Linked DNA regions of Homo sapiens. The protein of the gene in region 1 purifies or fractionates together with the protein of each later gene. This does not show direct contact. Each region holds a gene or a part of one and is shown in the gene's direction. Other genes may lie near its edges. The genes, in order: LBH, RP9, GTF2F2, DHX38, HABP4, OTUD4 and THEM4.

Region 1 (3,182 bases):
AGGTTTGAATCCTGGCTCTGCCATGTGACCCACAGAGTCCCGGGTCTTACTATTCCTAGAGTGGCAGTGAGCCCTGAACGAGCTGACATCTGAAAGAGCTTCGTGACCTGTAGTGGGCTTCCCTCCATCGGGGTCCCTCTCACCCACTCTCAGAGCTCATGCTTGGAGGGCGCCTTGTGTCCTCACAGCCCATGGGGGGCTCTGGCCCCACCCAAGAAATGAGGACGCACCCAAAAAGCCCACGTGGCGCTCCTCGCTCGGCACATGCACGTCTGGGCACAGCGCCGTCTGAGGGCAGAACTTCTGGGCCAACCTGGTCAGGAAGACAGAGCCCAGAGTCGGGGTCCGTGTCCCCCTCTGCCTCCGTGACCCACACTGGCCCATCCCCTCCCTGGACTTGTTTTCCTCCTGGCTGCCATTATGATACCTTTTATGAGCCTCGTTAAGTCTTTAATGATGCCTGGTTGTGCAGCTGGCTTAAGGCTTAATCCCCAGCAATAGGTCTTATTGGATAAATGGTTAATAATCACTCGTTTGCAGGTATTGGGAAGGCTTCACTGAGGCCTGTGATTCCTGGAAGCCCCACGTGGCCTGTGATGTGGTGAGAGTGTGACTTGGCTGGGGCAGCACTGCATGGGGTTGGGTTGCAATAAGACCGGGTATCCTCAGAGCACCACAGAAGTTGGGAAGGCCTGAGTTTGTAAAAGGGCCTTTCTTCTATGTCCTGGTAATGGGTGACTCCTGTCTGCTGCCGTGGGCCTGTCCCCATCTGGATCAAGGTGCAGGCAGGACCAGGCAGCCCCCCAGATCTCTTCAAATGTGTCTCCACCCACTCAAAGTTTTGCTTTCCTTTCTTGTGCCATGAACAAGCTGTGTGACCTTAGGCAGGTCTCCTGACCCCTCTGGGGCCTTGAGTTGCTCATCTACCAAATGGAGAGGTGGGAAGAGATGGCCATGAAGGTGCCAAGTGCCTGATTCTGGGAGCCCAGCATCCCAGACAGAGGCTTCTCTCTCTAGCTCTGGGGTGTGTCACTGAGGGCTGTGAATGGCAGGGACCAGCAGCCCAGCGGATTAAGTACTTAAACTGCTGGGCCAAGAATTGGGTCAGCTGTAGTCACAGGGCAGTGTATGCAAAGGGAATCCGCAGAGCCAGATTTGGCCCTGATTTTATAGCTGGGTTTGGAGTTTCTGCCAGCTCTGGGCAGGACACAAAGTAGGCATTAAAAAACAAAGCCTGGCTGACGGGACTCTGGAAAAAGAAGTAGACTCCTTCAGGTGTAGAGCTGGCAAGAAGCCAGGAACTGTTCACAGGTGAAAAAGGATCCTTGGATTTTGTTCCCAGCCTGCCTGTGACTGGGGACCATGCCGTTCATCAGGATTTGGCTTTGACTTTACAGTTGCAATGGGATGAGGACCCATCTGCTTGAGGGACAAGCTGGTGTTGGGGCAGGGGAATCGAACATATCCAGTTTTTGTTTTTTTTTATTTTCAAGATGGAGTCTCGCTCTGTCGCCCAGACTGGAGTCCAGTGGCGTGATCTCGGCTCACCACAAGCTCCGCCTCCCGGGTTCACACCATTTTCTGCCTCAGTCTCCGGAGTAGCTGGGAATACAGGCGCCCACCACCATGCCCGCCTAATTTTTTTTGTATTTTTAGTAGTTTACCATATGAGAGGTTTCACCATGTTAGCCAGGATGGTCTCGATCTCCTGACCTCGTGATCCACCTGCCTCAGCATCCGAAAGCACTGGGATTACAGGTGTGAGCCACCAGGCCCAGCCCAGACCCAGTTTTCAATCTCATCCCATCCCTCACTCATTTCTAGGCTGTCTGGTCTTGGACCACCTACTCTCCCAAGCCTGAGATTCTTTAAGCTAGCATTAGCAACACCTGTTTTTCAGCATGACTGTGTGGGTTGGAAGTGATATATGTATAGCACCTGGTAACCTGCTCACTTAGTGCCAATAATTATTCCGGGAGGTACTTAATGCTGTGGCACCTGTTGTATTCTTTGTACTGCTGGAGTAAAATACTTCCTGCAGAGAGAGACCAGACTTACTGTGGATAACATGATTTGGGATGATTTTATCTGCAAATAAAATACAGAATCCAAACAGAATCACATCAACCTTTAAACTCAGCGGCACTGCCCCCAAACTTTCAGCTTCAGGATTGGAATGGAAGTCTGACTGAGGGACAGTTTCCTATGTTGCCCCAGAATATTCTCCCGTGGCTCCCACCTTATATACTCCACAGCCTCCCGAGTGCAAAGCACAGTCCCTGGCCTATGGCATGCACCCAGTATGCCACATGGATGTGCAAAGAAGGAATGGAATTTCTCTTTTCAAATATCTACGTGACCAGGCACCTGCTCTGCTTTTCTTTCAGATCTTCCCAGACCCGTCAGATTTTGACCGCTGCTGCAAACTGAAGGACCGTCTGCCCTCCATAGTGGTGGAACCCACAGAAGGGGAGGTGGAGAGCGGGGAGCTCCGGTGGCCCCCTGAGGAGTTCCTGGTCCAGGAGGATGAGCAAGATAACTGCGAAGAGACAGCGAAAGAAAATAAAGAGCAGTAGAGTCCCTGTGGACTCCCATGGGTCATACCAGCCAGCATCTGTTCCTGAACTGTGTTTTTCCCATCATGACGGAAGAAGAGAGTGAGCCGCAATTGTTCTGAAAATGTCAAACGAGGCTTCTGTTTTGCACCTGCAGATCACCGAGTTGGTTTTCTTTTCTTTTCTTGCCTTTTTTTTTTTTTGAAATTTGCCGAGCAGTGGAGCCCTCTGACAATTTGCAAGGCCCTCTGAGAAAGGAAGCTGCTTAGAGCCAGGGGGTTAGTGGGTGAGGGGAGCGAGTGCTGTTTTTGAGATCATTATCTGAACTCAGGCAGCCTAGTAGAGGCAGTGGTGGGATTCCAATGGGTCTTGGTGGGTGGGAGGTGGGGCATGTGCAAAGCAAGCAAGGAACATTTGGGGTAAGAAAACAAACATGAGGCAAAAGAAAAAATACATGTTTTTAAGAAAACATTGAGCAGAGAACTGCAGCCAGGATGCGCTCAGCAGACATTCACTCTGGCTGCTGGGACATCAGAAAACAAAGTCTTCATCTCTCTCTCCAGTTTCACCCACCCCACCCTTTGCTTTCATTTCAGGTGTGTTGGTCTATATGACAGGGAGGAGAGT
Region 2 (4,185 bases), on another chromosome or scaffold:
TGGGTTCAAGCGATTCTCCTGTCTCTGCCTCCCAAGTACCTGGGACTACAGGTGTGCATCACCATGCCCAGCTAATTTTTATATTTTTAGTAGAGATGGGGCTTCACCATGTTGGCCAGGATGGTCTCGATCTCTTGACATAGTGGTCTGCCCACCTCAGCCTCCCAAAGTGCTGGGATTATAGGCGTGAGCCGCTGCGCCCACCAACTGTATATTCCTAAATTGTATATTTATACTGTTTACATCAATTCAACATCTTAGACATACCTCTTAACTTCTTGTCACAGTAAGGATTTAGTTCTTTACCTACCCTTCTTGTTTCCAATCTTCCAGTATAGTTCCATCATAGCAATTTTTGCTAAACGAATGCTTAGTATTAACATTATTATAACTAGGCTGGGCTCTGTGGCTCACGCCTATAATCCCAGCATTTTGGGAGGTAGAGGTGGGAAGATCGCTTGAGGCCAGAAGTTCTAGACCAGCCTGGGCAGCATTTATAGACCTTATCTCTGCAAGAAAGAAGGAAAAAAGAAATTAACCAGGCATGGTGGTACATGCCTGTGGTTCCAGCTACTTGGGAGGCTGAAGTGGGAAGATCTGCTTGAGCCTGGGAGGTTGAGGCTGCAGTAAGCCATGGCTGCACTCCAGGACTCCAGCCTGGGCAACAGAGTGATATCCTGTCTCAAAAACAAACAAACAAAAAAAAAACAGCAATATAACTATGAATTATTACTCACTTTGAGCCAGGTAGTGTACTCTGATTTATTTTGCTTTCTATACTATTGTTAACTTTTAAGTAGTTAATAAGAGCCTTTGTTTTTCACTTACTTAATTTTCTACTGCTGTTTTTCCCCCAATGTCTCCAAAATCTGAGTACCATAAAGGTGAAAAGGTATCTTTCCTTACCTATCATAGGAGTCACAGCAGATACTCCTATAACAAAAAATAGGTCAACAAGAAAAAAGCATAACAAATGTATTTAATCAAAGTTTTATGTGACATGGGAACGTTGACAAAGGAAGACCCAGAGACCCAGAGGAAACTATTTTTATGCTTAGTTTGGATGAAGAATGTATAGCAGTGTAGAAATATGATTAGACAAAAAAGGGTATAATACAGTGGTCATAGGGAAAATCCAGCAAGCCCTGTCTATTCAGATTTTTCAGGCCTCTCTGTGTACGATTACTTCCTCCCAGATATGGGGCAGGACCCTTTCTGGAATGAGGGGTCCTGATCTATCAAACAAGGTAGGTCAGCTCATGTTTTTATGGCCACCTCTGACACAGAAAGGCAAGGAAATGTTAGGGTAATATTTGTAGGAGTTTATTATTATTATTTTAAATATTTTTTTAAAAGTTCCACTGAGATTTTATCTTCTTTAAAAAAAAAATTAAAGTTATTTGTAGGGCTTCTGGCTTGCTTTGTGGGAGACTTGTTCTAGTTTTTATGGCCCACTTGTGGAAAAGAGGAATTCTGGCCTCTCTGACTGCTTTGGGGAAGAAAGAAGGGCAGGAGACAGGAGGGCAAGAGAAGGTCAGAGAGCAACTGTCTTCTGAGGCCTTCTCTAATCTCATTTAGTTCAAAGTACTCAGCATGCCAAAGCACCATACTTTGGGGTATCATTTTCTGAGCCCCAATAGTACTTTTTCCACACATAACTACATATCAGGTAGTCAGTTCATTTTTTACCTAGACTCTTCAATCTGTTGTCCTTCAGTACACTGGTTACTTTTTAGACCTGGTCCAGCAGTGGTCCTAGGGCATCCTTTCCCACTCTCCTATCTTGCATCTCATTCCTGGATTCCATGTCTTCCTCTTTATAAGTTTACTCTCACATTTTACCAAAGCCAATTCTGCAACTTCCTATGAAAGAGTGCATTGGAGGTAAAGTTTTTGACACCTTGCATATCTGAAGATGTCTTTATTCTATCCTAAAACTTGGTACATAATTTGACTAGGTATAAAATTACAGGTCAAAAATCATTTTGGGGCTGGGCATGCTGGCTCACACCTGTAATCCCAACACTTTGGGAGGCCAAGGCAGGAGAATCATTTGAAGCCAAGAGTTCAAGACCAGCCTGGGCAACAATGTGAGACCCTGTCTCTACAAAAAATTTAAAAATTAGCCAGGCACAATGATATGGACCTGTAGTCCCAGCTACTCCAGAGGCTGAGGCAGGAGGAAAATAGTAACAACAATTTTCACTCAGTTTTGGCGATAGTACATCACTATCTTCTAGCTTCCAAAACTGCTAAGGAGTTTGATGCCATTCTGAGTCCCTTTCTTTTATAAGTTACCTGTTCAAGTTCACCTCACCCTTAAACGTTAAGAAACTATTCTTTATTGCTGCCATCCTGAAGTTTCATGATAATGTTAGTCTTTTCCAATTGACTTTTTTTTTTTTAACTTTTATTTTAGGTTTAGGGGTACCTGTGTAGGTTTGTTATACAGGTAAACTCATGTCATGGGGATTTGTTGTACAGATTATTTCATCACCCAGGTACAAAGCCTAGTACCCAAGAGTTATTTTTTCTGATGCTCACCCTCCGCCTGCCCTCCACCCTCAAGTGGGCCCCAGTGTGTGTTGTTCCCCAGTTTGTGCAGTTGACTCTTTTTTTCTTGACATGTCATGAATGCATTAACTACATATATAAATTTATGTCTTATTTCCTCTCCCCAATTTTGTTTTTTCCTTCTGTTGATTTTCTGTTGCTCTATCTCTTCTGTCTTTGTATTTTCATTGTACTTTGTAGATGTATCTTTTTCTCTACTAAACATATTTGTTATATTTCTAAATCAAAAAGCTTTTTCTCATTCTGCAAGTTGTTTTTTATATTATCCTGTTCTTGTTTCATAAGTGAAATATCTTCACTCATCTATGAGGATACTCACTCGTTTTTCTTTTTTGTTGTCTTTTGTTCCCTACATTGCCTCTATTTCTTGTTTGCTTTTTATTTTGATTGCTGTCTTACATTTAGTAATTTTTTTTTCTCTAATATCTGGGTATTCTTGAATCTCAACCATATTTTGTTTTGTTTTGTGTTTTTTAGAGACAAGCTCTCGTTCTGTCACCCAGGCTGGAGCACAGTGGCACGATTATAACTCACTACAGCCTCGACTTCCTGGGCTCAAGTGATCCCCCCTGAATCAGCCTACAGAGTAGCTGGGACTGCAGGTGCACACCATGACACCTAGCTAGTTTTTTTACACTTTTTTTTTTAGAGATGGAATCTTACTATGTTGCCCAGGCTGGTCGCGAACTCCTGGCTTCAAGGAATCCTCTCACTTAAGCCTCCCAAAGTGCTGGGATTACAGGCATGAGCCGCTGCTCTGGCCTCAACTCATTTAAGAGTAGGCGCTATACAGCTCTTGTCAAGGGCAGCTGTGTGTGGGAGAGAAAAAAGAGAGAAGGTGTTGTTTGTTGATCAGATAGCTTCATGATAGGGCGCTCATGCTGCAGGGTACCCTTTTTATCAAGAGACTTCCAAATGTCAGTAGTTGGAGATTTTTTTCTGGGGCTCCTAAGTTCCTCTAGAGAAGGGTCTTGAGTCCTCTGCCTGGGGGCCAGGGATCTCTGCCTGGCTGCCAGTGTTGCTGAATTGGAGAGGCTAACCCTGCAGCCTCCTTCAAGTGTTGGGCAGGCAGCCTCCTGGCTATAGGAAGGAAGCCTCATCTTCTGAAAAGTGTTACTTCTTCCACCCCAGGAAATCCATTGCTATTTCCACTTTCCCAAATTTGTTGAAAACTTCCTCTGATGTTGCCTCCTTTTGGGATATCTTTATGGCCTTTTTATTTTTTCACTGTCATTTTTAAAGCATCTGGGGAAGGAGATAGATAAGCATGTTGGTCAGTTGGCCATGTTAAATGGGAAGCCCCACAGTGCTCTTTTATAAATTGAATTCAAATCTTTTCATCCCTGATGTGATGGAGTCTCCTGAGTCTCCACCACAGTTTTCCCTCGGTGACCCTGCCTGCCAGGCCCCTGAGGGCATCCGAGGCTTCCACCTGCTCCAACACTCTCTGTCACTTAATAGCTCCTGGGCTGCCAGGCATAACAGAGTGGACCTTCTGGGTGTATGTGGCAGTTTCACCTCTGCCACGCAGCCCCTTGGATGCAGCTGCAGGAACAATTGTGTGGAATGGAGTACACTTGCATTAGGGACTCTTCTCAAAGAAAACCCATC
Region 3 (4,185 bases), on another chromosome or scaffold:
CTTGAGGAAATAATGCTGTAGTGAGTTATTTTCTGTCACTTTCTCTGGTATTGGGAAATCTAAGCAACCATACCCTGTTGTACTTATTACCTTGTCTCCATCTGATTTTCAGTAATGAGTGAGATAGTGGAAATAACACAGATACATCGTAAGTGATATGTTGACAGTGGTGTTTTGGAGCCTTGAAACCATATATACTGTCATTTTTTTCTTCCTCTCCCTCCCTCTTTTGAGACTTAATAGGCCGGGACTTCTGGGAAGCCAATTTCTGTAAGTTCGTGGTGTAGAGAGTTATATATAATTAATGTGCTATTATTATTATTTTTTATTGCAAGGGTGTAGTATTTTAGGAACCTTTGAATTAAATAAGCTGGTGGGCTTACCTGGGAATCTACAGTTTTATTATAATAATGAAGACAGTGCAATATGAGCTGCAAACTTGTTTTTGTCCATTAACTTATGGAGCACAATCTGCTTTTTTTTTTGGTCTTTCTTTTTGAGACAGGGTCTCACTCTGTCTCCCAGGCTGGAGTGAAGTGCTGTGAATTCGGCTCACTGCAACCTCTGCCTCCTGGGCTGCAGTGATCCTCCTGCCTCAGCCTCCTGAGTAGCTGGGACTATAGGCATGTGTCACCACGCCCAACTAATTTTTTTTTTTTTTTTTGTAGAGACAGGGTTTCACCATGTTGCCCAGGCTGATCTCAAATTCCTGGACTCAAGCAGTCTACCCACGTTGGCCTTCCAAAGTGCTAGAGTGTTGGGATTATGGCATGAGCCACCACCCCTGGCCTTGTTTTTTTTTGGAGACGGAATCTTGCTCTTGTCGCCCAGGCTGGGCGTGCAGTAGCACGATCTTGGCTCACTACAACCTCCGCCTCCTGGGTTCAAGTGATTCTCCTGTCTCAGTCTCCCGAGTAGCTGGGATTACAGGCGCCTGCCACCACGCCCAGCTAATTTTTGTATTTTTGGTAGAGACGGGGTTTCGCCATGTTGGCCAGGGTGGACTCGAACTCCTGACCTTGTGATCTGCCCGCCTCAGCCTCCCAAAGTGCTAGGATTACAGGCATGAGCCACTGTGCCTGGCACCCCGGCCTTTTTTTTTTTTTTTTTTTTTTTTTTTTTTTCTTTTTTTTTGAGACGGGTCTTGCTCTGTCACCCAGGCCGGAGTGCAGTGGCGCGATCTCGACTCACTGCAAGCTCTGCCTCCCGGATTCACGCCATTCTTCTGCCTCAGCCTCCCGAGTAGCTGAGACTACAGGTGCCCGCCACCATGCCCGGCTAATTTTTTGTATTTTTAGTAGAGATGGGGTTTCACCATGTTAGCTAGGATGGTCTTGATCTCCTGACCTCGTGATCCGCCTGCCTCAGCCTTCCAAAGTGCTGGGATTACAGGTGTGAGCCACTGTGCCCGGCCTCCCCCCTGGCCTTTTTAAAAAATTATTTTTGCGGCCGGGCACAGTGGCTCACGCCTGTAATTGCAGCACTTTGGGAGGCCGAGGCGGGCAGATCACGAGGTCAGGAGTTCGAGACCAGCCTGACCAATATGGTGAAACCCCATCTCTACTAAAAATACAAAAATTAGCTGGGCATGGTGGCGGGCGTCTATAATCCCAACTACTCGGGAGGCTGAGGCAAGAGAATCACTTGCACCTGGGGGGCGGAGGTTGCAGTGAGCCAAGATCATGCCATTGCACTCCAGCCTGGGTGACACAGTGAGACTCCGTCTCAAAAAAATAAAATTTATTTTATTTTATTTTATTTTTTGAGAAAGAGTCTCGCTCTGTCACCCAGGCTGGAGTGCAGTGGCATGTGATCATGACTCACTGTAGCCTCCAACTCCTGGGCTCAAACGATCCTTCTGCCTCAACCTCCCAAGTACCTTGGATCACAAGTGTGCACTAATATGCCTAGATAATTTTTAAATTTTTTGTAGAGATGGGGTCCCCGTATGTTGCCCAGGGTGGTCTCGAACTCCTGGCTCAAGTGATCCTCCCTCTTCAGCCTTCCAAAGTGCTGAGATTATAGGTGTGAGCCACCATGCCCGACACAATGTTTTTAAGTTGGCAGTTGCTTGTATTAGGTATAATTTGTTGTACTGAATTTGATTCTTAAATTTGCCTTAATGTATGATATATAGTTACTTTCCCTTGAAGTGCTTTCTTGTTTGAAGGCCTAAATCGTAGTCTCCAGTAGTTTGATCACAGAAAATCCTGATCTGGTTAATATGTTGAAGAAGTATGATCTCATTTAAGAGTTCCAAAGCTTCCAAACATTCTTGTGTTCTCTTTAAGAGCATTTCAGGGTATAGCAGTTAGGGCAAAGTAGTAGGTTAGAAAATGTCCTACTCTACTATTTGCATTTTGTCCTCTTCCTATTTATTTATGACAGAGTCTTACACTGTCACCCAGGCTGGAGTGCAGTGGCACGATCATGGTTCGCTGCAGCCTCGACCTCCCTGGGCTTAAGTGATCCTCCCACCTCAGCCTCTCGAGTAGCTGGGACTACAGGCACACACCACCATGCCTGGCTAATTTTTGTATTTTTTGTAGAGTTGGGGTTTTGCAATGTTGCCCAGGCTGGTCTCGAACTCCTGTGCTCAAATGATCCACCCACCTCAGCCTCCCAAAGTGCTGGGATTACAGGCGTGAGCCACCATGCCCAACCCTTCCCCCTTATTTTAAGGTGGATCTCTGAACTGAGACTTCCCTCTGAGAATGAAATGAAGTGTAGTAAATTATATATCCTAGGTATATTCCAGTATTGACCATCATTGCTGTTACATTAGTGTTTCTTCAATATCCACTCATTAAAATGATAACTATTCTTCTATTCTGGATGCTAGAGATATGACAGTAAACAAAATTACAATATCTGCCTATTCAGATACGTTCTAATTAGATTACGTTCTAATGAGGAGGGAGAATAGACGATAAACAAATACATTTAAAGCAGATGATAAGTGCTCTGAAGAAAAATAAAACAAGGTCAAGGATCTATAAAGTAACTGGTGATGCTATTTTAAATAGGGCAGGAAGGGACCTCACTGATAAGATGGTCTTTAAGCAGGGACGTAAAGAATTTATGGGCTTGCCCTTGCAGATACCCATGGGAAGAGTGTTCCGGACAGAAATAACAGCAAATGCGTCTTTAGATGGGACGTCACCGCAAATGTTCACAGGTCTGTGTGGTTTGAGTAAGGTGAGAGGGAGAGTAGGAGTTGAAGATATGGGATAGGATCATCCAGGGAACTGGGTCACCTAAGACATTATAGGAGTTTTCTTCTGAGTGAGATGGGAAGCTAGTAGCCATGGAGAGGCAGCATGGCATGGTGACTAAAATCGTGGACTGTGGAGTCGACTGCTTAGGTTAGAATCCTAGTTTCACCGCTAGTGATTGTGAGACTTTGGGCAAATAATAGCTTTTTGGTGCTTCAGTTTCTGCAGTTGCAAAATAGAATGATGATAGGGCTGTTATAAGGATTAAATGGAGTAATATTTGTAAAGTGTTTAGAAAAGTGTCTGGTAAACATAGTAAGCACTATGTAGATGTCTGTTAAATAAATGGAAATGTTTTGAGCAGAACAGTATCATCTGACTTAGGTTTTAAGATGACCATTCTGGCTGCTTTATTGAGAATAAACTGTACATGGGCAAAAGTGGAAGCAAGGAAATCAGGAGGCTGTTAAAACAATAATTATTCAAGAGATGATGGTGGCTTGGGCTAGGGTAGTAACTCGAGTTGGTGAGAAAAGGCTGGAGTTGGATATAATCTGAAGATATTGACAGGATGTATCAGTTGATTGGATTTGGGGTATAAGAAAAAAATATTCAGGATGACTCCAAGGTTTCAGCCTGAGTGTTTGGAAGAATGGAGTTGCCTTTTATTAAGATACGGAAAATTGCAGCAGGAGCAAGGTTTATGAGGGAGAAATTAGTTCTAGTATGGAGATTTTAAGTTTGAAATGCTTACTGAATATTAAGATGGAGAGTTTGAGTAGGCAGTTGGATATATAAATTGAGACTTCAGGGGAGAACCTGAGCTTGTTGTAAGTTTGAGAGTTGTCATACAGATGGTATTTTAAAGCCACGAGACTGGATGAAGTTACTTAAGATTGAGAGTATACAGGGCTGGGCACGGTGGCCTATGCCTGTAATCCCAGCACTTTGGGAGGCTGAGGTGGGCGGA
Region 4 (4,185 bases), on another chromosome or scaffold:
ACCTGCCCATCTTTGCAGTGCAGCAGGAGCTGCTCACTATTATCAGGTAACTTCACCCGGGGCCCAGGAATCTAGTGTCAAGTCAGGGGTGCCCTTGGTCTCCCATGTTTACCCAGGAGCTCTTTTTCTTTTGTGCATTGCACCCAGTGGAGAAGGGAAATACTTTTTTCCTCTGACCTCATGCCTGGGGTACACTGCACAAAGTAACGGGATGGCACCATTTTGTTTTAGCTCACCTGTTTAAACCTCACCGTATTCCAGATGTTTCAGGTGTTATCTCAGTAAGAGGCTGTTGTCCCAGTGAAATTCTCCCTTCTAAACCGGCATGCTCCCTGGATAGCTAGTCATGGGGATAGGAGGTAGCGGAGTCTTCTTGGAGGCTGGGTGTTGGCCTTCCACTTCGGCTGATAAGCCCTTTGCCTGCTTGTCCTTGTAGAGACAACAGCATCGTGATCGTGGTTGGGGAGACGGGGAGTGGTAAGACCACTCAGCTGACGCAGTACCTGCATGAAGATGGTTACACGGACTATGGGATGATTGGGTGTACCCAGCCCCGGCGTGTAGCTGCCATGTCAGTGGCCAAGAGAGTCAGTGAAGAGATGGGGGGAAACCTTGGCGAGGAGGTGAGTGGGCGTGGGGGCTGAGCCATGTAGTTATTCCCTAGTAGCTTCCACCCATTTTTGCTAAAGGGTGTGATCTGCTAAGACTCGGACCCCAGTACGGGGTGTGCTGGTGGTGAGCCGGTGGCCAGGGCATCTGAGCCATCTCTCTGACCTCCAGGTGGGCTATGCCATCCGCTTTGAAGACTGCACTTCAGAGAACACCTTGATCAAATACATGACTGACGGGATCCTGCTCCGAGAGTCCCTCCGGGAAGCCGACCTGGATCACTACAGTGCCATCATCATGGACGAGGCCCACGAGCGCTCCCTCAACACTGACGTGCTCTTTGGGCTGCTCCGGGAGGTGAGGGCTGTGTGGTTTGGTCTCTCTGCGCATGGGGTGTTGACCAGTGCACCACCAGTAGCTAGTGGGTTGCTCCAGGTGGGCTGAGGGGGTCTCTGGTAGGCCAGAGGTTCCTGAGGCCTCTGGTTGCAGTTCAGACTCGGGTTGTAGTTCATGCTGTTCTTGCTCTGCTGAGGGTGGCTTGGGGTTTTCTGGGCAGTGGCTCCATTGCTTCAGTCTTCATGATTGGTAAGAATTGAATAGGCCCATTTGTCAGCTTTGGCTTGTGTTTCCTCGGGGGTGGTGCTGATGGGACTGGGGGACAGGAGCCAAGGGTCCCCACCATGGGGGCCTCCGAGCCGCCTCTTCTCTCAGGTAGTGGCTCGGCGCTCAGACCTGAAGCTCATCGTCACATCAGCCACGATGGATGCGGAGAAGTTTGCTGCCTTTTTTGGGAATGTCCCCATCTTCCACATCCCTGGCCGTACCTTCCCTGTTGACATCCTCTTCAGCAAGGTATTGAGGCCACCATGTTACGAACTGACCCTTCCATGCCACGCACTTCTCTGATGCGAAGCCGGCTGGAGGGTGGAGGGTGGGTAGGGGACTGGGTTGGAGAAGATTTCCTGGGGACCATGGGGCAAATGGGGCAGCCTGCAGCTCTGGGACTCGGGGACAAAGGACTCTGCTCTGGGTGAGGTTTTGTTTCATTATTTCTTTGAGGCTGAAGTACAGGGCCCAGGGAGGCACTGTGCCCTCTTGTAGAGGCCTCGCAGTCAGGCCCATGTGGAGGTGTGGTGGCCCTCAAAGTCCATGGCTCCATTCCAGAGCAGTGCCTGGGCCACTGGGCTCCCAGGAGATGCCCGGCCTGCGCTTCTAGTACCTCCCTCTGACTGTGTCCCCACTGCTGTTGCAGACCCCACAGGAGGATTACGTGGAGGCTGCAGTGAAGCAGTCCTTGCAGGTGCACCTGTCGGGGGCCCCTGGAGACATCCTTATCTTCATGCCTGGCCAAGAGGACATTGAGGTGCGTGCCTTGGTCACGACTGTGATGAGCGGGTGTGTCTTGCATATGAGAGGTTAGGGTTCCAGTGTCTCACAGCTCCTCCCTGGGCTCTCAGGTGACCTCAGACCAGATTGTGGAGCATCTGGAGGAACTGGAGAACGCGCCTGCCCTGGCTGTGCTGCCCATCTACTCTCAGCTGCCTTCTGACCTCCAGGCCAAAATCTTCCAGAAGGTGTGTCAGCAGGAATGTCCAGGAGTGGCTCTTGGAGTTCTCTAAAGGAAGCGAGAGGGGATGTGACTGTCCTGGCAGGGGGTGGGCTAGGAGGTAGGCTTTTCCCCCTCGCGGAGCCTTTCCTGTCTCGAGGGACTCATTTTTCCCTTCCTGTATGTCCTGCTCTAGGCTCCAGATGGCGTTCGGAAGTGCATCGTTGCCACCAATATTGCCGAGACGTCTCTCACTGTTGACGGCATCATGTTTGTTATCGATTCTGGTTATTGCAAATTAAAGGTAAGAGAAGACATGGGAGGCAAGGCCTGGGTGTTCACCAGAAGCTAACTTAGCTGCGGGGTGGGAAGCCAGGGCCTCGCTCCTGGCCCTGGGATGTGGGGAGCGCGTGGAAGTGGTGGTGGTGGTGGGAGGCTCACATTGACTCACTGTGCTTGGTTTGTTTAACCCTTGTAATACTCGATGAGGTAGATAATTTAACAGTAGAGCTCAGAGAGCTGGTGTTTGTGGGGAAGACTTCTTCAGGTGTTCATGAGAACATTTCTAGAGCCTCCTGGCTCTTCCTCTGCCATGTGTAGCAACCAGGGCTTGCCTTTGTCTCAGGCCTACTTCCACTTTCCCCTCACTCTGTCCTTCGTCAGCTCTTTGCCGTCCCCTCCTAGGTCTTCAACCCCAGGATTGGCATGGATGCTCTGCAGATCTATCCCATTAGCCAGGCCAATGCCAACCAGCGGTCAGGGCGAGCCGGCAGGACGGGCCCAGGTCAGTGTTTCAGGTAGGAGCCCTGTGCTAGCCTGCTTTCTGGGGCAGCGCTGGGGTTGCTGAGCGTGGAGCCCGGGCGGGGGCGGGCAGGATGCTGGCTCTAGAGCTGGTCCCCAAGGCTGGAAGCTGCTGGCAGGGCTGCCACTTGTTAGTCCTTTCATCCTATGCTACTGAGTGGAAGGAAGGAGTGGCTTTCCAGGGATTTCAGAGGTCTGAGGCCAACCTACGTGGATGTAGGTACACATGCAGGTAATTACAGCCTGCCTCCCTTCAGAGGGTAGGTCTGGACAGATGATGCCATTGGTTCTTTTTATTTCTATTGTTCTCTTTCCCCATTTTCTTTCTTTCTTTTTTCCAATTAGAGACAGGGTCTTGCTCTGTCACCCCAGGCTGGAGTGTGGTGGTGCAATCACAGCTCACTGCAGCCTTGATCTCCTGCACTCAAGTGAACCTCCCACCTCAGACTCCCAAGGGGCTGAGATTGCAGGCAGGCACCACCACACCTGGCTAATTTGTTCATATTTTGTAGAGATGGGGTCTTGCTATGTTGCCCAGGCTGGTATTGTGAACTCCTGGCTTCAAGCGATTCTTCTGTCTTGGCCTCCCAAACTGTTGGCATTATAGGTGTGAGCCACTCTGCCTGGCTCTCTTCCCCTTTTTTGTTCCAATTAAAAAAATTAATGTATTCACTATAGAGCGTTAGTGAATATAGAAAAATATCAAGAAAATAAAACCCAGCCATGATTCTAGTCCCAGGCCCATTGGTTCTAGAAATGAAACAGATGGCTGGGTGTGGTGGCTCATGCCTGTAATCCTGGCACTTTGGGAGGCCGAGGCGGGCCGATCACAAGGTCAGGAGTTTGAGACCACCATGGCCAATATGGTGAAACCCCATCTCTACTAAAAATACAAAAATCAGCTGGGCGTGGTGGCGGATGCCTGTAGTCCCAGCTACTCGGGAGGCTGAGGCAGGAGAATCGCTTAAATCCGGGAGGCAGAGGTTGGGCAACAGAGTGAGACTCTGTCTAAAAAAAAAAGAAATGAAACATGTAAGAGGCTCCAGAAGAAGGGCTAAATTGGCAGATTGGAGTTTTGAATAGGTGGAAGTCAGTGATTCACTGAAGTAGTGGGTGGGGAGAAGAAATGAGAATTTCCTCCCTCCCTGTGGGATTTCATCTGTACTGGCTGCTGTGGGGTTTCCTTGTGGTGAGAAGATGGGGTCTTCTCCCCGGCAGGCTCTACACCC
Region 5 (4,185 bases), on another chromosome or scaffold:
ATAGAACCTTAAATTACATCAGCTCTTCAGTGAAGATACAGATTTGATTCCCCACTCCCCACCTACTGTTTTGTTTTGTTTTGTTTTGGAGAAAGAGTCTTGTTCTGTCGCCCAGGCTGGAGTGCAGTGGTGCCATCTTGGCTCACTGCAACCTCCGCCTCCCGGGTTCAAGCAATTCTCCTGCTTCAGCCTCCCGAGTAGCTGGGATTACAGGGATTACAGGCGTGTGCCACCACACCCAGCTAATTTTTGTATTTTTAGTAGAGACGGGGTTTCACCATGTTGGTCAGGCTGGTCTTGAACACCTGACCTCATGATCCACCTGCCTCGGCCTCCCAAAGTGCTGGGATTATAGGTGTGAGCCACCGCGCCCGGCCTGTTTTTTCCCCTTAAACACTTTTGAGATATAATTCTCGTACTATAGCACTCAAATCTCTAAGTATATAGGCCAGGTGTGGTGGTTCAGATCTGTAATCCCAACACTTTGGGAGGCAGAGGCAGGAGGATAGCTTGAGGCCAGGAGTTCAAGACCAGCATGGGCTACATGGAGAGACCCCGTCTCTACAAAATGGTTGTAAAAATTAGCTGGGCCTGATGGCTCGTACCTGTAGTCCCAGCTACTCTCAGGAAGCTGAGGTGGGAGGATCCTTGGGCTCAGGAGGTTGAAGGTATGGTGAGCCATCATCATGCCACTGTACTCCAGCCTGGCCAACAGAGTGAAACCCAGCCTGTATCAAACAAATAAATGAGTAAACGACTGAATGCATGGATGGATGGTTTGGGGTATGTTACATTATTAATTTTTTAAAATTGCAGTAAAAATAACATAAAAATTGCCATTTTTACCATTTTAATATATATAATTTAATGGCATCAGTAACATTCATATTGTGTGTAACCATCACCACCATCCATCTCTAGAACTTTTTTTTTTTTTTTGAGATGGAATCTCACTCTGTTGTCCAGGCTGGAGTGCAGTGGTGCGATCTCGGCTCACTGCAACCTCCACCTCCCGGGTTCAAGCGATTCTCCTGCCTCAGCCTCCTGAGTAGCTGGGACTACAGGCACATTCCACTACACCCGGCTAATTTTTCTGGTATTTTTTAGTAGAGACGGGGTTTCACCGTATTGGCCAGGCTGGTCTCGAACTCCTGACCTCATGATCCGCCTGCCTCAGCCTCCCAAAGTGCTAGGATTACAGGCTTGAGCCACTGTGCCTGGCCTTGTAGAACTTTTTCATCACAAACAGAAACTCTATATCCATTTAACACTAACTCCCCATTTCTCCTCAGCATGTAGTAATCTCTATTTTACTCGTGTTTATGAATTTGCCTATTCTAGGTGCCTCATCTAAGTGGAATCGTTCAATGTTCCTTTTGCACCTGGCTTATTTTAACTATTAGCATCAAGTTTTCAGCTTCATTCATGTTGTAGCATGTGCCAGTCTTCATTTCTGTTTTTCTTTTTTTGTGTGTATTTTTGTGATGATTTTCAAATCTACGATTTTAATCCTTTTAAAGTGTACAATTCAGTGGCATTTAGTACATTCAGAGTGTTATGCAACCATCACCATGATCTGGCTCCAGAAGGTTGTTATCATCCCAAAAGGAAACCCCATGCCCATTCAGCAGTCACTCCCTATCCTCCCTCCCTGCAGCCCTGGCCACCACTGACCTGCCTCCTGTCTGTGTGAATCTGGCTCCTCTGAATATTTCATGTAAATGGAATCATACACAGAAGTCTTTTCTGCCTGGTTTATTTCACTTGCATCATTTTTTCAAGGTTTGTTCATGTCGTAATGTGTATTAATACTTTGTTTCTTTTTATTGCCAGATAATATTCCAAAAAATGTGCCATATTTGGTTTATCCACTCATTAGTTAATAGACATTTAGGTTGTGTCCACTTTTTGGCTATTATGAATAGCACTGCAGTGAACACTTGGGTTTAAGTTTTCATGTGGATGTGTGTTTTCATTTCTCTTGGGTATAAACCCAGGAGTGAAATTTCCGGGTCAGAGGCTAACTCAGCTTAGATTTTTGAGGAACCGCCAGACTGCTTTCCAAAGAGGCTACACCATTTCACATTCCCACTGGCAGTGTATGTGGGTTCCAGTTTCTCCACATCCTCCCCAACGCTTGTCAAATGTCGTTTTGGTTCTAACCATCCCACTGGGTGTGGACTGGTGCAGCTCTGTGGTTTTGACTTGTCTTTCTCTAATAGCTAATGATGTGCAACATCTTACTGCCTATTTGTATATCTTCTCTGGAAAAATGTTCACTCAGATCCTTGCCTTTTTTGGGGGGAGGGTGGTCATTTGTCTCAACTAAAGAGGACTTGTATCTAGAATTCATAAAGCATTCTTTTTTTTTTTTTTAAAGAGACAGTGTCTCATTCTGTTGCCCAAGGTGGAACACAGTGGCCATTCACACGTGTGATCATAGCTCACTGCAGCCTCAGATGCCTGGCCTCAAGCGATCCTCCCACCTCAGCCCCCTGAGTAGCTAGGACTATCGGCATGAGCCACCACGCTTGGCTGTTCATAAAGAATTCTTTATGTATTCTAGATACAAGTCCCTTGTGAGATATATTATTTGTAAATATTTTATCCCATTTTGTGGACTGTCTTTTTACTTTCTTGATGGTGTCCTTTGTAGTATAAAAGTATCTGATGATGTTCAATGTATGTACTTTTGTTGCTTGTTTTTTTGGTGTCATGTGGAAGAAACCATTGCCCAGTCCAGGGTTAAGAAAGTTTCTGCCTAGGTTTTCTGCTAAGAGTTTTATATTTTAGCTCTTGTATTTATGGTGTGAGGTAGGTCTAACTTCATTCTTTCTTTTGGTGTGTGTGGATATCCAGTTGCCCAAGCACCGTTTGTTGAAAATACTTTTCATTCTCCATTGAATTGTCTTTGGCACCACGGTTGGAAAAAAAAAATCAGTTGACCGTAAATGTGAGGGTTTATTTCTGGACTCTGAATTCTTTGCTCTCAATCTATATTTCTGTCTTTTGTTTTCTTTTTAAAACTCATTAAAGAGGATATTTGCAAAAGTATGCATTCATGAGCCACTGCTTTAAAACTTGTTTATGGTTTCCTGTATTTTATTTCAACCCATTGTCCATAATTACCTCATTTTGTCTGTCATGCTGTCTGGAAGGGAGTGCCAGTGGTGAAGTGTGATGTTAATGTCATCAGGATGGTGATGTTCCCATTTTTCAAAGATTGATTTGAACACAGATAGGAAGTATCTTCTGTTGGCAGTGATGACATAAAATGTTGAAAATGAAATATGGAAGCTTGTGAGTCAAAGATTTCCTTACCTTATTTGCATTTGAAATGCAGTACCACAAAAATATGTTGAATTAATGGTTATAACTTTTTCTTTATAAAGTAGACATTTTAGTACCATCAAAAAGTATTCTTTATGATTATATATCTCTTTATAGAGTTCCTGAGTTGGAGGTAGAAGAAGAAACCCAAGTTCAAGAGATGACTTTAGATGAGTGGAAAAATCTTCAAGAACAGACCAGACCAAAGCCTGAGTTTAACATCCGGAAACCAGAATCCACTGTTCCTTCCAAAGCCGTGGTGATTCACAAGTCAAAATACAGAGATGATGTAAGCATTGCATTTCGTATGTAGAGGTAATCTTTACTTTTACCTTACTGGAAGTGAAATGTACCTTTCCACTTCTGTCTTGAAAATGGAACATTAGTAGTTGGCAGTCTTTGTTTCTAATCAGAGATGATGCATGCCTAATTTTACTGTATTGTTCATTAAGAAAAGGAATTGAAACTTGAGGTATTGACAGATGCACAGAGCAGTTAGAGTGACAGTGCATCTTCTGCTCACCCTGGGACTATGCGGGTACTGTACACATACTGTGTATTAACTGTATTTCATTTTTCTCAAGGGAGAGTTACAGATTGTGTCTTGTACAATTCAGAGTTAATCAAAGGAGAACTACACTCTGTGTCCCCTGAGTAGGTTACTTTCAACTCTGTTTCTTGATAAGAGCATTTCACTGAGTAGTTGATGACTTTTTTTTTTTTTTGAGATGGAGTTTCGCTCTTGTTGCCCAGGCTGGAGTGCAGTGGCGCGATCTTGGCTCACCGCAACCTCCGCCTCCCGGGTTCAAGCGATTCTCGTGCCTCAGCCTCCCAAGTAGCTGGGATTACAGGCAT
Region 6 (4,185 bases), on another chromosome or scaffold:
TGGTGTCTTGACTTGGTTTTACATTTTGGCTTTTAGAAGTGTTCTAGTAGAATTTCACAGGCTGGATCTTAATGCGGGTTATGAAAATAACACTTATTAAAAAAACTTCTCTATTGAACTTAATCTAGTTATATTCAGTTATGTTGTTTTCTAGGCTATTTTATGTTTTGCATTTATTTGGACATTTAGAAAGCTACTATGATGGATAAGACGCTGAGCTGTGGGGGATGGAAAGATGACCTGGACAAGGCCCTTGCATACTAAGAGTGGGCTTTGTCTGACATGGTCAGGGAATTGGGGGTGTTGTGATTAATAGTGGTTTCTGTGATGGGTAACTCCCTATAAATTAAAAGAAAAAAAATTCAGTCTGGGCATGGTGGCTCACACCTGTAATCCCAGTACTTTGGGAGGTGAAGAGTTCAAGACCAGCTTGGCCAACATGGCAAAACTCTGTGTCTACTAAAAGTAGTGGCATGGTGGCACATGCCTGAGTCCCAGCTACTCTTGAGTCTGAGGCACGAGGATTGCTCGAACCCAGGAGGCAGAGGTTGCAGTGAGCCGAGTTGCGCCGCTGCACCACAGCCTGGGTGACAGAGTGAGACTCTGTCTCAAAAAAAAAAAAAAAAAAATTCAGACTTGCAGTGTAAAAAATACGCTGAGTGTAAGTAATGCTGAACCCTTAATTTTATCAGAAGGCATTCATAGGTTTTTAATTTTCAGGGTTCAGTGTGAACTCACATGTCAGAACATTATAATTATGTAAGTAGTGATTAATAGTTAATAAAATGTTGTATAACAGCTTAATATAATTTTCTCAGTAGTATGTGAAATAAGATGCCACAGTGACCTGTTTTCATTTTACATTCAAAGTCTTACAGGATTTATTACTTACTGGTTTTAAGACCTAGAATTATGTAATCTGACAACTTTGGGTGTTATTTCCCCCAGTTGACTGGTAGAGAATGTTGATATAATACTTTGCAAATGATAGGCTTGAAACCTTGTTTTATTAAAAAAACCTGGTAACGCAGAGGCTAGATAAGAGAGTGCAGAGGTGTGGTAGAGAAGGGAAGTGGGGAGGTGGAATGGTCTTTAAATTAATTCTTATTAATCATTGGCCCCAGAGGGTAAAACTGTGTTGATAATAATGGACATTGCTAACATTGGTTGAGGTGCTTACTATATGCCAGGCATTAAGTGTTTTGCATATATTTTTTTTAGTCCATATAATTTTTTTTTTTTGAGACAGAGTCTCGCTCTGTCGCCCAGGCTGGAGTGCAGTGGCGCCATCTTGGCTCACTGCAAGCTCCGCCTCCCGGGTTCATGCCATTCTCCTGCCTCAGCCTCCAGTGTAGCTGGGTCTACAGGTGCCTGGCACCATCACGCCAGGCTAATTTTTTGTATTTTTAGTAGAGATGGGGTTTCACCATGTTAGCTAGGATGGTCTCGATCTCCTGACCTCATGCTCTGCCTGCCCCGGCCTCCCAAAGTGCTGGGATTACAGGCGTGAGCCACCGTGCCTGGCCTTAGTCCATATAATTTTATGAGGTATGATCAGAGGTTGAAAGTTCCATGGGGAAAAGTTTCACTTTCCTTTTATGAACCTTCAAGCAGTTTCAGTTGTCCAGAATTGGAAAGAGATGTTGTAGAAAGTATTATGCCTTGTTACTGACATTGTTCAGCCATGGCATAGGTGGACGCTTTCTGCTCAGAAAGGAGACTCTCAGAGAGGATGCAGGCTTGTGTCAGAATTCTGCAGTCTCTAGTAACTTTAAATGGTTCTGTGTTTTTTTTTTCCTTAGACCTATAATCATCTAATACAGAACAGTAGCCCTTTATTGGTGGGCTCTTTAATATATATGGCTCTTTTATTATAAATATCTTTCGAAATTTAAGATATTTTTGGCAATTTGACATTATATAATCTATGAAAGAATCTCAATCTTAAAATCCAAGGGTGCTTAAAAGATTTTATAGACAAGGGAGTATACTTTAATGTCTTTAAGTATATCTCTGCTAAATCAACTGGGACTGTAATTTAAACGCAATTGAATTTGGTGGTTCAACAAATGACTTTTAGAGATTTCTCAAATGAGTGCGATTGCTATTAAAGAAACATAAAAAAGGTTGTGTTATTACACAGCTTGAATAAACTGTTTTTATGTCAAAGTAACAATGAAGCGATGAAGCAAGCTGTATTAGAAAAATTTTGTTGATGCTTCAAAATATTTTTCGCCTTACTAGTTCTCATCGCTCTTTCTAGTATCACTTGAGAGACAATGAGTACTCTTATCTGTATTATTAAGCTATACTATTTCTTAGCTTGTAAGTCAGTCTTTGTTTTATTCCCTTCTACACACTGGTCACTACCAAGTTAAAGCACTGCTTTCATCATATAATTTCTCAGTTCAGAATGTCACCTGAAGTGGCCTTGAATGGCCTTTCTCATCTAGCCTTCAAGTCCTGCCTGGGCTCAAGGCCCTCTGTAAACAGGCCCCCCTTTGGGTTCTTCTCCCACTCAGTTCCACAACAGGTTGTCCTGCTCCAGCTGGCCAGATTGCTTGTCTTCCCAACACAGTGTTCCTCTTCCTCCTCACGCCACATTGGCCCTCTCTGTAGAGTATCAGCTGCCTGTTGCCATCCAGATCCTGTCCAGCATTCATCTTGAGTCACTCTTCTTTCAGGAAACCTTTCCTGACAGAATTTCCTTCTTTAAATTCTTTTGTATGTTTATAGTCTTTAATGATTGCTATATGTTTTCATAATTAGATTATGTACATATTTTTAAATAATACTGAGGTATTTTAGGTTTATGTACAAACTCAGTAATTCACAGTGAATGTTTACACAGCGAAGCGGTTAACTGTTTTGGCATATATGTTAGATGACATTTCTAATAGATTTATTTTTTGCAGTTTATAGAAGGATCATTTGAAGAATATTTAAAGCGTTTGGAAAATCCACAGGTATGTCACAGTCTTCTAGTATATTTCTATTTTTATATATCCAAATAATGTATTTAAAATTCATTAAAATAGAAGATTACTATTACAGTGTATAGAGGAGTTGCAGTGACGGTGTATCCTATTTCCTTATAAACGTTTCCTACACATTTTATGCAGCACTTAAGTTGGAGCTATATGTTAGAGGTTGCCTCACTAAGGCAGAGTTGTGATATTTTATCTTGGCTATAATGGCATGTAAATGTAGTATAAAAATCTGAAATAATACTGGGGTGATGATTTTCAGAATGCTACGTTGGTGTGTGTATGGAACTTGGACAGGGTGAAGTTTGATTTCTTTTTTTTTTTTTTTGAGGTGGAATTTAACTCCATTGCCAGGCTGGAGTGCATGGCATGATCTCGGCTCACTGCAGCCTCCGCCTCCCGAGTTCAAGCGATTTGTCTCCCGAGTATCTGGGACTACAGGCGTGCACCACCATGTCCAGCTAATTTTTTTATTTTTAGTAGAGATGGGGTTTCACCATATTGGCCAGGATGGTCTCGATCTCTCGACCTCGTGATCCGCCTGCCTCAGCCTCCCAAAGTGCTGGGATTACAGGTGTGAGCCACCACACCTGGCCTGCAGAGTTTTTCTTCCTAGGCAACTGAGAAGGCAGAGTTCTTTCATGCAGGTTCCTATTTCCATGATCATCTCGTGAAGAGGGAAGAGACTGTTGAGACAGAAAAGGATAGCACTTACTCACCAACTCCTGCTGCTATACTTTTTCAGTCATGTTTATGTTAAAAGGATTTTTCTTAATTTTTCTGTTTACAAAACTAACGTTCTCACTGTAAAAATCCAAGTATCTTGGAATGCCATTTAGAATGTTAAGGTAAAAATAACATTGGCAAAGAAAAAAGCTAAGAAGAGTTAAGGAGTAAAGGGAATGTAATGTAGGAACCAAGGGTGTTTGATCGATGACTGATGTATCCATTTGGTTGCCTAACACTAATTTGAGTGCTTGTTATGGGCCAAGAATTCCTAGTCACCCTGGGGATGCAGAGATAATGTAGATAACAAAAAAGTTTCCCTATCATAGGAAAGAAGGTCAATACAAGCTAGAAAAGGAGATTTGTCACAAGAGGTATATAGCTGTGATGCTGTAGGCATTCAAAGTGTTATTTCTAGCTGGGTAGACAAAGCAACACTTGGAGAGTGAGTTGTATTTGAAGTCTGAATGGA
Region 7 (4,185 bases), on another chromosome or scaffold:
TCTTTCGTTCATATATGATACTTAGTTTCACTGGATACAGAATTCTTGGCTGATAATTGTTTTGTTTGAGGAGGCTGAAGATAGGGCCCCAATCCCTTCTGGCTTGTAGGGTTTCTGCTGAGAAATCTGCTGTTAAGCTGATAGATTTTCCTTTATAGGTTGCCTGGTGCTTCTTTCTCACAGCTCTTAAGATTCTTTCCTTTGTCTTAGCTTTGGATAACCTGATGACAATGTGTCTGGGTGCAGATCTTTTTGTGATGAATTTCCCAGGTGCTCTTTGTGCTTCTTGTATTTGCATGTCTAGATCTCTAGCAAGACCAGGGAAGTTTTCCTCGATTATTCCCCCAAATATGTTTTCCAAGCTTTTAGAATTGTCCTCTTCCTCAGGAAGACCAATTATTCTTAGGTTTGGTAGTTTAACAAAATCCCAGACTTCTTGGAGGCTTTGTTCATATTTTCTTGTTCTTTTTCTTTCTCTTTGTTGGATTAGGTTAATTTGCATTTCTAAAAGTGTGTCCAAAATTTCCTGAATTTTTTATTGTTTTTTCTTTAAGCTATTTCCTTGAATATTTCTCCCTTCTTTTTTTTTTTTTTTTGACTCACTCTGTCGCCCAGGCTGGAGTGCAGTGGCACAATCTTGGCTCACTGCAACCTCCACCTCCCAGCTTCAAGCAATTCTCCTGCCTCAGCCTCCCGAGTAGCTGGAACTACAGGCGTGTGCCACCATGCCCAGCTAATTTTTGTATTTTTAGTAGAGATGGGGTTTCACCATGTTGGCCAGGATGGTCTCAATCTCTTGACCTTGTGATCTGCCCACCTTGGCCTCGCAAAGTGCTGGGATTACAGGCGTGAGTCACCACACCTGGCCCTCCCTTCACTTCTTGTATCATTTTTTGGATTTCCTTGCATTGGGCTTTGCCTTTCTCTGGTATCTCCCTGATTGCCTTAATAGCTAACCTCCTGAATTCTTTTTCAGATAAATCAGGGATTTCTTCTTGGTTTGAATCCATTGCTGGTGAACTAGTGTGATTTTTGGGGGGTGTCGACAAGCCTTGTTTTGTCATATTACCTGGGTAGGTTTTCTGGTTCCTTCTCATTTGGGTAGGTAGACTCTGTCAAAGGGAAGGTCTAGGGCTGAAGGCTGTTGTTCAGATTTTTGTGTTCCACAGGGTGTTCTGCTGATGTAGTACTCTCCCCCTTTTCCTGTGGATGTGGCTTCCTGTGAGCTGAACTACAGTGATTGTTTTCTCTCTTCTGGGTCTAGCCACCCAGTGAGTCTGCCCAGCTCTGGGTTGGTACTAGGAGTTGTCTGCACAGAGTCCTGTGATGTGAGCTGTCTATGGGTCTCCCAGCCATGAATACCAGTGCCTTTTCTGGTGGAGGTGGCAGAGGGTGCAGTGGACTCTGTGAGGGTTCTTAGCTTTGGTTTAATGCTCTACTTTTGTGCTGGTTGGCCTCCTGCCAAGAGGTGGCACTTTCCAGAAAGCATCAGCTGTAGCAGTATGGTGAGGGACCGGTGGTGGGCGGGGCCCTAGAACTCCCAAGATTATATGCCCTTTGTCTTCTGCTACCAGGGTGGATAGGGAAGGACCATCACCTGGGGCTGGGGCTAGGCACATCTGAGCTCAGACTCTCCTTGGGGGGATCTTGCTGCAGCTTCTGTGGGGGATGGCAGTGAGATTCCCGGGTCACTGGAGTTGTGTACCTAGAAGAATTATGGCTGCCTCTGCTGAGTCATACAGGTTGTCAGGGAAGTTGGGGAAAGCCGGCAGTCACAGGCCTCACCCAGCTCCCATGCAAACCGAAGGGCCGGTCTCACTCCCACCATGCCCTTCCAACATCCCCGTGTCTGTTTCCAGGTGGAGGGCAAGACGGGCTTGAAAACTTGTCTGAGGCTTTCCACCTCCCAGCTGCAAAAGAAAAGGGCTTTAGTTCTTCCCCGACCTGTGAAGTCTGCAAGCCGGGTTCATGCCCTCCCCGAGTTCTGGCCAGGAAGCTTCTCCCCAGTTCAAACTGTTACAAAGTTCAGCCGCAGAATTTCTTCTCCCTGTGGAATTTTACCCCCTGCTCCTTTGGCCACCCTCCTGATGAATCCCTGTGGTGCCAGGCAGGTATGGGCTGCTTGGGGACCCAGTGAGCTCCCAGGGCCTTTCTGCTGCTTCCCTTACCCTGTATTTCGCTCAGCTTAGCTCTCTAACTTGACTCAGCTCCAGGTAAAGTCAGAAATTTCTCCTGCAGACAGACCAGCTTCTCCAGTAGGGGTGTGTGTTCAGGAGAGGAGGGTCTTTCTTTCCCAATTCCACAGTTGGGGCACTCACAGTATTTGGGATGTCTCCCGGTCCTGCAGGAGTAGTCCGCTTCCTTCAGAGGGTCTGTGGGTCCTCTTGGGATTGCTGGTTCTTGCAGTCAATCTTGAACTAAAATTCACAATACAAGCCTCCACATGCTCAGCTAATACGATTTTGAAGAAAGTTGGAGGAATCACTCTGCCCAATCCAACACGTATTATGTTCCTACAATAATTAAGAACGATCACAAGGTCCCACAATAGGCTGTCTGCAAGCTGAGGAGCAAGGAGAGCCAGTCAGAGTCCCAAAACTGAAGAACCTGGAGTCCGATGTTCGAGGGCAGGAAGCATCCAGCATGGAAGAAAGATATAGGTTGGGAGGCCAGGCTGTCTCTTCTTCCATAGAGTTTTTGAGACAGGTTCTCTGTATTCTTCCCACCAAGCCAGCATTGGAGCCAGCCCCTGTCAGCAGAAAGCTGGTTCTCCCATCATACTGTGACCTCCCCGTTTTGGTTTTATGGTGCAGTGTGTGTATTGTAGGTACATTAAATCTGAATGAATTGATAAGGGTGGCTGAAAGTAGAATGCCATGGAGTTAATAGCTTCTGTGATCCTACATGTTCCAAGATAACTGCAGCAGTCCAAAAAGCCAGTTTCCTTTCTGGTGTTTGTGGGCATACACTTTGTTCTGCTCCTGAGTAAGTCACACTTTGTCTTCCAGGTCCTCTAGGATCCCTGCAATGTTCCATTTGTTGCCTGGGCATTGGAGTAATAGCAGTGCTTGGTGCTACAGAAATAGATGGATGGAAGTTGTGGTTACTGTGACACCAAAAACTTGTCCCCTGAGCTCCCTACTCCTCTTTCTCCTATATTTTTTGGTAATTGGCTCTGTCATTCACCTCACTGCAGGATTCAGAATCCTGGTACTGGGTCTTGTATTTCTCTTTTTCCCTTACCCTCCTTATCCAAATTGTCACCAAGTTCTGCTTCATGCTCTCATGATTTCTCACCTGAGTTACCCTAGTAGCTTCCAAATAGGGCCCTCTGATTTCAACCTTGGACACTCCCACTATCTTTTATATTATGGAAAGATCTAATCATGTTACCCCCCATTTAAAATCCCTCAGAGAGCACTGCAGATACAATTCAAGCCAGTTAGCTTAGTGTTAAGGTTTTACATGCATTTCTGCAGCCATCTGCCCCTATTCTTGCACCCTAATAATGCCAAACTTCTTTTAGGCCTTAATTTCATCATCTGCAAAATGAGGATAATAAATAGTACCTACTTCATATGATTGTAATAAGGCCCCTCAAAACTGTTTCATGCCTCTTTTGCCCACTGCATTAGGCTGTTCTCACATTGCTATAAAGAAATGCCTGAGGCTGCGTAATTTATAAAGAAAAGAAGTTTAATTGACTCACATTTCTACAGGCTATACAGGAAGCATGATGGTGGCATCTGCTTGGCTGCTGGGGAGGGCTCAGAAAACTTACAGTCAGCCGGGCACAGTGGCTCACTCCTGTAATCCCAGCACTTGGGGAGGCCGAGGTGGGCAGATCACCTAAGGTCAGAAGTTCGAGACCAGCCTGTCCAACATGGTGAAACCTCATCCCTACTAAAAATACAAAAATTAGCCGGGTGTGGTGGGGCGGCACCTGTAACTCCAGCTACTCAGAAGGCTGAGGCAGGAGAATCACTTGAACCCAGGAGGTGGAGGTTGCAGTGAGCCAAGATTGCGCCACTGCACTCCAGCCTGGACAACAGAGTGGGACTCTGTCTCAAAAAAAAAAAAAAAAAAAAAAGGAAGCAAGAAAACTTACAGTCATGGCAGAAGGCAAAGCAGGAGCAGGCACTTCACATGGACACAGCAAGAGCAAGAGTGCAAGGCACAAGGTAC

Evidence for each region.
Region 2: the proteins of LBH (region 1) and RP9 purify together in Homo sapiens (affinity purification with mass spectrometry; one large-scale study listed by BioGRID and IntAct). This does not show direct contact.
Region 3: the proteins of LBH (region 1) and GTF2F2 purify together in Homo sapiens (affinity purification with mass spectrometry; one large-scale study listed by BioGRID and IntAct). This does not show direct contact.
Region 4: the proteins of LBH (region 1) and DHX38 purify together in Homo sapiens (affinity purification with mass spectrometry; one large-scale study listed by BioGRID and IntAct). This does not show direct contact.
Region 5: the proteins of LBH (region 1) and HABP4 purify together in Homo sapiens (affinity purification with mass spectrometry; one large-scale study listed by BioGRID and IntAct). This does not show direct contact.
Region 6: the proteins of LBH (region 1) and OTUD4 purify together in Homo sapiens (affinity purification with mass spectrometry; one large-scale study listed by BioGRID and IntAct). This does not show direct contact.
Region 7: the proteins of LBH (region 1) and THEM4 purify together in Homo sapiens (affinity purification with mass spectrometry; one large-scale study listed by BioGRID and IntAct). This does not show direct contact.

Annotation. Positions count from the first base shown.
Region 1 is NC_000002.12:30,255,046-30,258,227, forward strand, and holds part of LBH (protein LBH), read left to right. Parts: intron 1-2,387; coding exon 2,388-2,576; 3' UTR 2,577-3,182. UniProt on the Homo sapiens protein: Transcriptional activator which may act in mitogen-activated protein kinase signaling pathway.
Region 2 is NC_000007.14:33,102,685-33,106,869, reverse strand, and holds part of RP9 (retinitis pigmentosa 9 protein), read left to right. Parts: intron 1-4,185. UniProt on the Homo sapiens protein: Is thought to be a target protein for the PIM1 kinase. May play some roles in B-cell proliferation in association with PIM1.
Region 3 is NC_000013.11:45,126,846-45,131,030, forward strand, and holds part of GTF2F2 (general transcription factor IIF subunit 2), read left to right. Parts: intron 1-4,185. UniProt on the Homo sapiens protein: TFIIF is a general transcription initiation factor that binds to RNA polymerase II and helps to recruit it to the initiation complex in collaboration with TFIIB.
Region 4 is NC_000016.10:72,103,166-72,107,350, forward strand, and holds part of DHX38 (pre-mRNA-splicing factor ATP-dependent RNA helicase PRP16), read left to right. Parts: coding exon 1-46; intron 47-436; coding exon 437-623; intron 624-780; coding exon 781-966; intron 967-1,320; coding exon 1,321-1,461; intron 1,462-1,861; coding exon 1,862-1,972; intron 1,973-2,066; coding exon 2,067-2,183; intron 2,184-2,351; coding exon 2,352-2,459; intron 2,460-2,839; coding exon 2,840-2,952; intron 2,953-4,174; coding exon 4,175-4,185. UniProt on the Homo sapiens protein: Probable ATP-binding RNA helicase. Involved in pre-mRNA splicing as component of the spliceosome.
Region 5 is NC_000009.12:96,481,015-96,485,199, forward strand, and holds part of HABP4 (intracellular hyaluronan-binding protein 4), read left to right. Parts: intron 1-3,447; coding exon 3,448-3,619; coding exon of another isoform or gene 3,620-3,643; exon of another isoform or gene 3,644-3,645; intron 3,646-4,185. UniProt on the Homo sapiens protein: Ribosome-binding protein that promotes ribosome hibernation, a process during which ribosomes are stabilized in an inactive state and preserved from proteasomal degradation.
Region 6 is NC_000004.12:145,170,451-145,174,635, reverse strand, and holds part of OTUD4 (OTU domain-containing protein 4), read left to right. Parts: intron 1-2,915; coding exon 2,916-2,966; intron 2,967-4,185.
Region 7 is NC_000001.11:151,895,894-151,900,078, reverse strand, and holds part of THEM4 (acyl-coenzyme A thioesterase THEM4), read left to right. Parts: intron 1-4,185. UniProt on the Homo sapiens protein: Has acyl-CoA thioesterase activity towards medium and long-chain (C14 to C18) fatty acyl-CoA substrates, and probably plays a role in mitochondrial fatty acid metabolism. Plays a role in the apoptotic process, possibly via its regulation of AKT1 activity.